2 separate regions of the Homo sapiens genome follow, and region 2 is reported to be linked to region 1. The links are microRNA targets in miRTarBase. Many come from high-throughput screens and were not tested one by one. Region 1 holds a microRNA gene; the other region holds the end of a gene's coding sequence.
The links. Region 1 holds the annotated microRNA hsa-miR-6752-3p (UCCCUGCCCCCAUACUCCCAG, at 784-804, opposite strand). A microRNA usually pairs through its seed, bases 2 to 8, with sites in the 3' UTR of a target mRNA and lowers its output. Matches are read on the target gene's strand: a 7mer-m8 pairs with bases 2 to 8, a 7mer-A1 pairs with bases 2 to 7 and ends in A, and an 8mer does both.

Region 1 (3,000 bases):
ATAAATAAAGGCCTTTATATACACAGAAGCATGACGCAGCACGGGCAGGGGGGCTGGCAGCTGCAGCAGTGGGCTTGGCAGGTAAGGCAGGGCCAAGTGCTCCTGTCAATGGGAGAAGATCCCCCGGAACCGGGCTTTGTCCTCTTCGTCCTTCTGCCGGATCCGTGCCTCCAGGGCCCGCAGCTCTCGGCTCACCACAGGCGCCAGGGCTGGGTCCAGCTCCAGCACTTTGGCAAAGTCAGCCTGGGCCTCCTGGGCATTCCACACGGCCGCGTGGGCCTTGCCCCGCTTGAAGTAGGCCTTGACGTTGTCTGCAGGGGAGGCCAGTGGGCAGTGGGCATGCAAGGGCATGAGGGGGGATCCTGGCCAGCTGCCTGCCCTCATGTCTCCTGGCACCATGGGCCCACAGGGGAGAGAGAGCCCTCCCTGACCTGAGGATGCCACCCCACCCCCAATACACCATTCATGCTTCATTGGCACAATGGGGCCCACAGCCCTGCCGAGTAGAGGCATTTAGTCAGGCCCCCGTGGGAGCTCAGAATGGGGGTTGTGAAAGGCTAGGTCTTGACCCCAGCAGTGACAGGAGAAAGGCCACTCTCTGACCACTCGCAGCCCCCGGCAGCCCAGGGCCCGGTGCTCACCGTCGTACTTGTTGAGGATGGAAGAGCAGTGGTCCAGCACCTCGTAGTACTCCTCGACCACCAGCTTGCACTGGCAGTAGTTGAGCAGCAGCGGCGTGATCTGCTGGTCCAGCTGGATCCATTCAGGGGACCCAGGCTGTTCCTGGGAGTATGGGGGCAGGGAGCGGGGAGAAGCTGTAGACCTGGGCCCCCTGGCTCCACACCCCCCTCCATCCATCCTCCCCCTCAGCCTCCAGGCAGTACCTTCATCTGCAGGTTCTTGAGGCAGGCAATGGCATCGTAGTACTTGGCAGCAGCCTCCTTCACATGCCCCTCGCGGTACAACCGGTTGCCCTCCTGGTGGATAAGTGGCACTGCCTTTGCCTTCTCTTCGTCTGTCATGGCCCATGGGTCCTGCTGGTACGTGCCAGGGCTCTCCACCTGCAGGGCATGGGGCATATCACAGCGGGGCTCGGGGACACCACAGCTGCGTCCGTCAGCAGCAGACCTGACCCACATCTGGGCTGGCTGGGCCCCCAGACATCACACACCAGCAGCAGAGCTACTTGTCACTCAAAAAGCATCAAACATCGATGTCACATCTCCTGTGTGCCCAGCACTGTGCCAAGTGCTAAGAATAGAACAGTGAACAAGACGGTGAAAAGCCCTGCCCTCGCAGAGATCATGCTGCATGGCAGGTTCCCTAAATGGACAAGGAAATCCATGAATTCCAAGGGACTTCAAGGTGCGGCAGAGGCTATAAAGGAAATGAGCTGCTGCGAGACAGAGAATGAGGAGACCGGGTGGGCAGGGCCGGTTTCCTGGAGGAGGTGACATTTGAGATGTGAAGGAGGAGGAAAGGAGACCCAGGGTACTGCCAAGGGTCCTGCACAGGTTTTCTTGTCTCTGTCCGCTCCCCCAGCAGTCCACCTGCGGATCCCACCACCCCTGGGTGGACAGGCCAGCGCCGCCCTGAGGCTGGGCAGTGGGGGCCTGGTGAGACCAGGCGCGGTGGCCCCTCACCTTCAGCATCTCCATGTGGAAGATGAGGGGCTGGGGGTTCTGCTGCAGGGCGTCCAGGTCAGCATGGCCCAGGGAGCTGTGTTCACGCATCTGTGCAACACCGCAGCAGTGCCGCTGGCCCTCCAGGGGGTCCTTGCCCACCGCGATGTTGCGGAGACTCTTGGCCACCAGCGGGTACAGGACCACATGCTGCGGGAAGGCAAGGGCGCCGGGGGCTCTGTCACCGTGGGCTGGCTGGTCACCGGGTCCACAAGGCCCAGCCCCCTTCCCCACCACCATCTGAGAACAAACACCAAGGCCCAGAGAGTGACAACTGGGACCCTACTCCGTTTAAGCACAGGAGGCTTTTAATTCAGGACTCCTCCAGTCGCTCAGCCCTCTCTCCTGGTGAAGCCCCAGCTTCTGCCACATTCTCTGGCCACCAAACAGAGCACCTAACCCCCTCCTCACCCCCACCACAGACACATGCCTACCATCAACCCCTGTCTCCCTGGTCCTTACAGGCCCAGTAGAATTCTTACCTCCTCTCCCTCCAGAGGATAAGGCCCTTTGCTGGACTATGCAAAGAACTGGGGCCCCCCACATTCTGTTCCCAGCAGCTCCTCCTTCTGCCCCACCCACACCCCACTGAGGGCCTACCTCAGAGCTGGGCCCAGGCCAGCCACTTCAAAACCCTCAGGGAGGCCGGATGTGGTGGCTCACGCCTGTAATCCTAGCACTTCGGGAGGCCAAGGCGGGCGGATCACCTGAGGTCAGGAGTTCAAGACCAGCCTGACCAACATGGTGAAACCGCGTCTCTGCTAAAATACAAAAATGAGCCGGGCACGATGGCAGGTGCCTGTAATCCCAGCTACTCAGGCAGCTAAGGCAGAGAATCAGCTGAACCCAGGAGATGGTGGTTGCAGTGAGCCAAGATCACGCCACTGCACTCCAGCCTGGGCAACAGAGTGAGACTTAGTCAAAAAAAAAAAAACCCCACAGGGAGACAGGCATAGGGGACCTAGCCTCTAATCTCTTGCTTGGCAAAGCTGCTAGGCTGGTGGGAACCAGATAACCAGATTCCTCCTACCCGGGTCCTCCCCACTCCTCCCACTGCCCTGTTGTCTGGACAGGGGCTGACTGCCGGGCTGCCATCAGCGGGCATTTCCTGAGTCTTGGCTCTGGACTGGCTCGCGCTGGGCATCCCAAAGCTAGAAGTAAACAGGCCAGATCCCTGCTCTGCAATAGCCTAGGACAAGGCAGAAGAGCAGATCCTGGCCATGCAGGGCATGAGGGTTGGAGGACCCAAACATGGGAGTTGAGCCAACCACTAGCAGTCAGGGAGGGCTTCCTAGAGGTGGTGACCCAGGAATAAGCT
Region 2 (3,516 bases), not on the chromosome of region 1:
TTCTGAACAATCTTGCCCTGTGGTTTGCTAAGGTTTTGGATATTCACAAGAGAGTAGAGAACCAAAGAGAGTACAGAAAGATGAAGAAAAATAGAGATTGTGGTATCCAGCCTGGTCTGATGGAGTACCCTGGTTTTCACCAAGTTAAGGTACTCAGTGAATTGAAAAATTATTCTTGGAGTTGAACTTACAGGCCTCTGATGAGATTTTGGAAAGCATCAGGAAGGAAACAAGAGTCCAAAGAAGGAAGGAGAAGATGAGCTTGCTCAGGGCTATGTCAGGTGCAGTTGAGATAACCTAGCAATAACAGCCTGAGTTACAAGGAATTTTCTTTCTCTCCCTAAAGCTAAGGGGAAGGTACTGATAATGATGGACTGGGTAAGTTTTAAAATGCAGCTTGCCTTAGGATTTACTATCTCTTGGTTCTTATTTCAGAGCAAAAGTAACCTGAACCCAGATGCCAAGGAGTTTATTCCAGGAGAGAAGTACTGAGCCGAGAAAGCTTTGAGGAAGACTTGTCTGTCCCCACATCTGGGGATAGTAATGCACAAAATGGTGGAGCTGAAGAGGGGGATGGGGCGGGCGAGGGGTGCACAGCGGGAAGGGGAGTGGTGGTCTCACAATACTGTGACTCTGAGTAACTAATATGCTCAGTCTTATTCTAAGCCTCTGAGTATTTCTATTTTGTTCTGCTGACTTTTGTTTGGGGAGTTTCCTGTTTTGTTTTTTTAAATAGCTCTTTCGAGTTAAGGAAATTGCATTTTCCCCCCTTCATCAGAAGTGTTCCGCGGTGTGTATTTAAACAAAATAAGCTGACTAAGAAAAACTGGATATTTAGGAAATGCCCCTCTCACCCTGCTGTATACTTATCAGGGACAGTGAGCACCTGGAGAGCTTTTTGTGGAATCTATTGAGTTGGATGGGAAAAGGGACAAGCAGAAAGAGCAGGTGGTGCAAACTGGAATTTGAGGCTCAGCTGCCCCACCCCCGGGGTCTCCTGCAATGAACTCGGATAACCAATGTGCTGTCAAGCCCTTGCCTGTTTGTCCTGAACCCCATTCAAGAAAACACAGACTTAAAGTACTTAGTTTACAGTAACTTTTGATGATTGTTGAAAGTTGTAAATCAGAAGGTAGGGCTGTGATGGTGGTTGTCACTTGAGTCATTTAGTTACTGTTGTCCTGTTCATAAGCCTGTGTTCACCACCACCATCAGACTCACCATTTATAAGTAGAAGAGCACTAGGGTTGATCTGCCACCTCATCTTTCATGAAGTCTATTCCCCAGCCTCCTTTTTAAGAAAAGATACTGCTACCAAAGGCATAGGGGAGGCCTGCTGTGCTGGCAATTAGCATGAGCCTGCAGAAGTCATCCTTGAATCTGTTGTGTCTTAATTTTATTTGGACAGTTTTTTTTTCCAGCCTCATCAACACTTGGTCTTCCTGGTGTCTTAATTCCCTCAGACAAGTTTATGCACTTTTTTAAGGAAATATTTTTCAGGACACTAGTAAGAAGCTCAGTTCACAGTTTGGATATTTCTTCCCACATTACAGAATTATGGAAAGGAACTCAAAATCAGCCTAGGAAAGTGAGTCCTGCTTGACCCATGTGACTGTGTACCTGACCTTCTGGGATCTTTTCAGCTATTAAAACATTTTACTGTTCCCACATACCCAGCTTTGCAAGTTTTGTAGATTGACCTCTTAGGGTGTGTTTCTTTGTCTTTCCTGCCTTTAACTTGCTGGGGTCTTTTGTTGCTACCCCTAAGGAACTAAACTGGGTGCCAGGAGCTACCTTCGTGTATAGAGATGTAGATGGCAGTGTGGGGTACAGGAGAGCCATCCAGGCCATTCTCCCAGGGATGAGGAATTGGAGAGCCCTGAAGATAATAGTGGCTTCTTTCTGATTGCTACTGTGCTGTGTGATAGGCCTAATAGGGAAAAGATATGTAACTTGAAACAAAGTTGGTATAAATTCAGTATGTGGCTGTGGGACAGAGGTTGGAAGGAAAGGACTAGGGTATGGAAAGCTGAAGAAATTCTCCTTATGAGCTCTCGTTGACTTTTTGAACAGTGATAAGCTAATGCCAGATTTAAAATACACATTTTTTCCTATTTGAGTCTTTAGGATTATATCATTTGAAAAAATTGCCTTCCTTGTTAGGTCACATGTCATAGGAGAGTAGCTTAGAGAACTTGCATTACCAGACAGACACATTAATTCCCAAAGCCTCTATGTTGAGAGAATGAAACTGTTAACTCTTTTTCAGAGAGGACTATGAATAAAGAAACTTCTTTATTCAAGCTTCAGCTTTCAGCTGGGTTGTTTCCTCTAAAAGGGAAAGGGCATTGCAAGTGCATAGAGGAAATCTCTCCCTTCTGGGACTGCTTTTCCTCCTTCATCCTCGTGAGCCTGTCCAAGCTCAGAATTCCGAAGGCTGTTAGAAATGCGTTGGGATTGCAGAGAGAAAGGAGCTTGTCTTTCCTTCTGCTGTGCTGGTCTGTTTTGGATGTCAGTCTTCAGGACTATGAAAACTTCCTGCCAGTTTAGCATGGACACTGAGGGCTGGCATTTCTAGTCTTCTTCAGACACTGAACATACTGACTCCAGGTATAGGAAGCAGCTAGCAAATTGATTCTTTTTTAAATGCATAGGACTCTGCTTCCGGCGGTTCCTCTTGTAGTCCAACTCTTTTTGCCATCTATTTATGTTGGGAGGTAGGGGCACAATTGTCACTCACAACACAGGCTAGTTAGAGTTTGCTACCTTCTTAGCAGAAAATGCATGTGTGTCTTGTTGGACCTTCACTGGGGAAAGGCTGGGAGCCTCTGGCTGTCAGTGACTTTTCTCACAGAAGAAGAACCAGCAAGCCAGACTGGACACCTTTACCCTTTAATGGTAAGACTTGTATTTATAAGGGGTAATTTTGATGTTGAATTTAAGCCACTACTTTGTTTAAACTTTTTTAAATTGGCAACTAGAAGTTTGAGAATTTGTATAGAAATGGAACATGTATTTCTAACAGTTGCCAATCTGGCTGGTCCCAATGTTAGTTTATTAGTGATTGATCTGTAATTATTGGGATTATTTATTCAACTCTAAAATTCCAAGATGAAAATAATTTATCTCTTTCTTTTCAAGGGAAAAAACCCAAATGAATGCATTTTCAGTTTCTCCAGGCCTTTGAACTGCAGCAGAAAATTCAAGGATACAGCCTAGGCCTGGGCAAATGCAGCCCTGGGTCTTTGGGCCAGTTTCTGACAATAATAGTTGAGTTTTGGGAATCACATAAGGGTGAAACCAGAAACGATCCTAAGGAAAGGCTTGACCTTTGTTAACACCTTTAGTTTCCAAAGTCACAGCAGCTGGGGTCCCTCTTTTTTTTTTTTTTTTCTTTTTTTTTGAGACATAGTCTCACTCTGTCACCCAGGCTGGAGTGCAGTGGTATGACCATAGCTCACTGCAGCATCAAATTCCTAGGCTCAAGCAATCCTCCCATCTTAGCCTCCCGAGTAG

Region 2: miRTarBase lists PAIP2B as a target of hsa-miR-6752-3p. The part of its 3' UTR that is shown has no 7-base or 8-base seed match.

What each region holds. Positions count from the first base shown.
Region 1 is chr11:67,488,099-67,491,098 of GRCh38, reverse strand. It overlaps MIR6752 (microRNA 6752), which reads right to left and starts at 854; the gene lies at 784-854. It overlaps AIP (AHR interacting HSP90 co-chaperone), which reads right to left. Exons shown (of 6, transcript NM_003977.4): 3 at 1,644-1,832; 4 at 885-1,061; 5 at 642-783; 6 at 1-311. The coding sequence ends at 106.
Region 2 is chr2:71,185,455-71,188,970 of GRCh38, reverse strand. PAIP2B (poly(A) binding protein interacting protein 2B) reads left to right here. Exons shown (of 4, transcript NM_020459.1): 4 at 436-3,516. The coding sequence ends at 492. Among named protein-coding and RNA genes, the nearest start is that of PAIP2B, 40 kb to the left of the region's middle.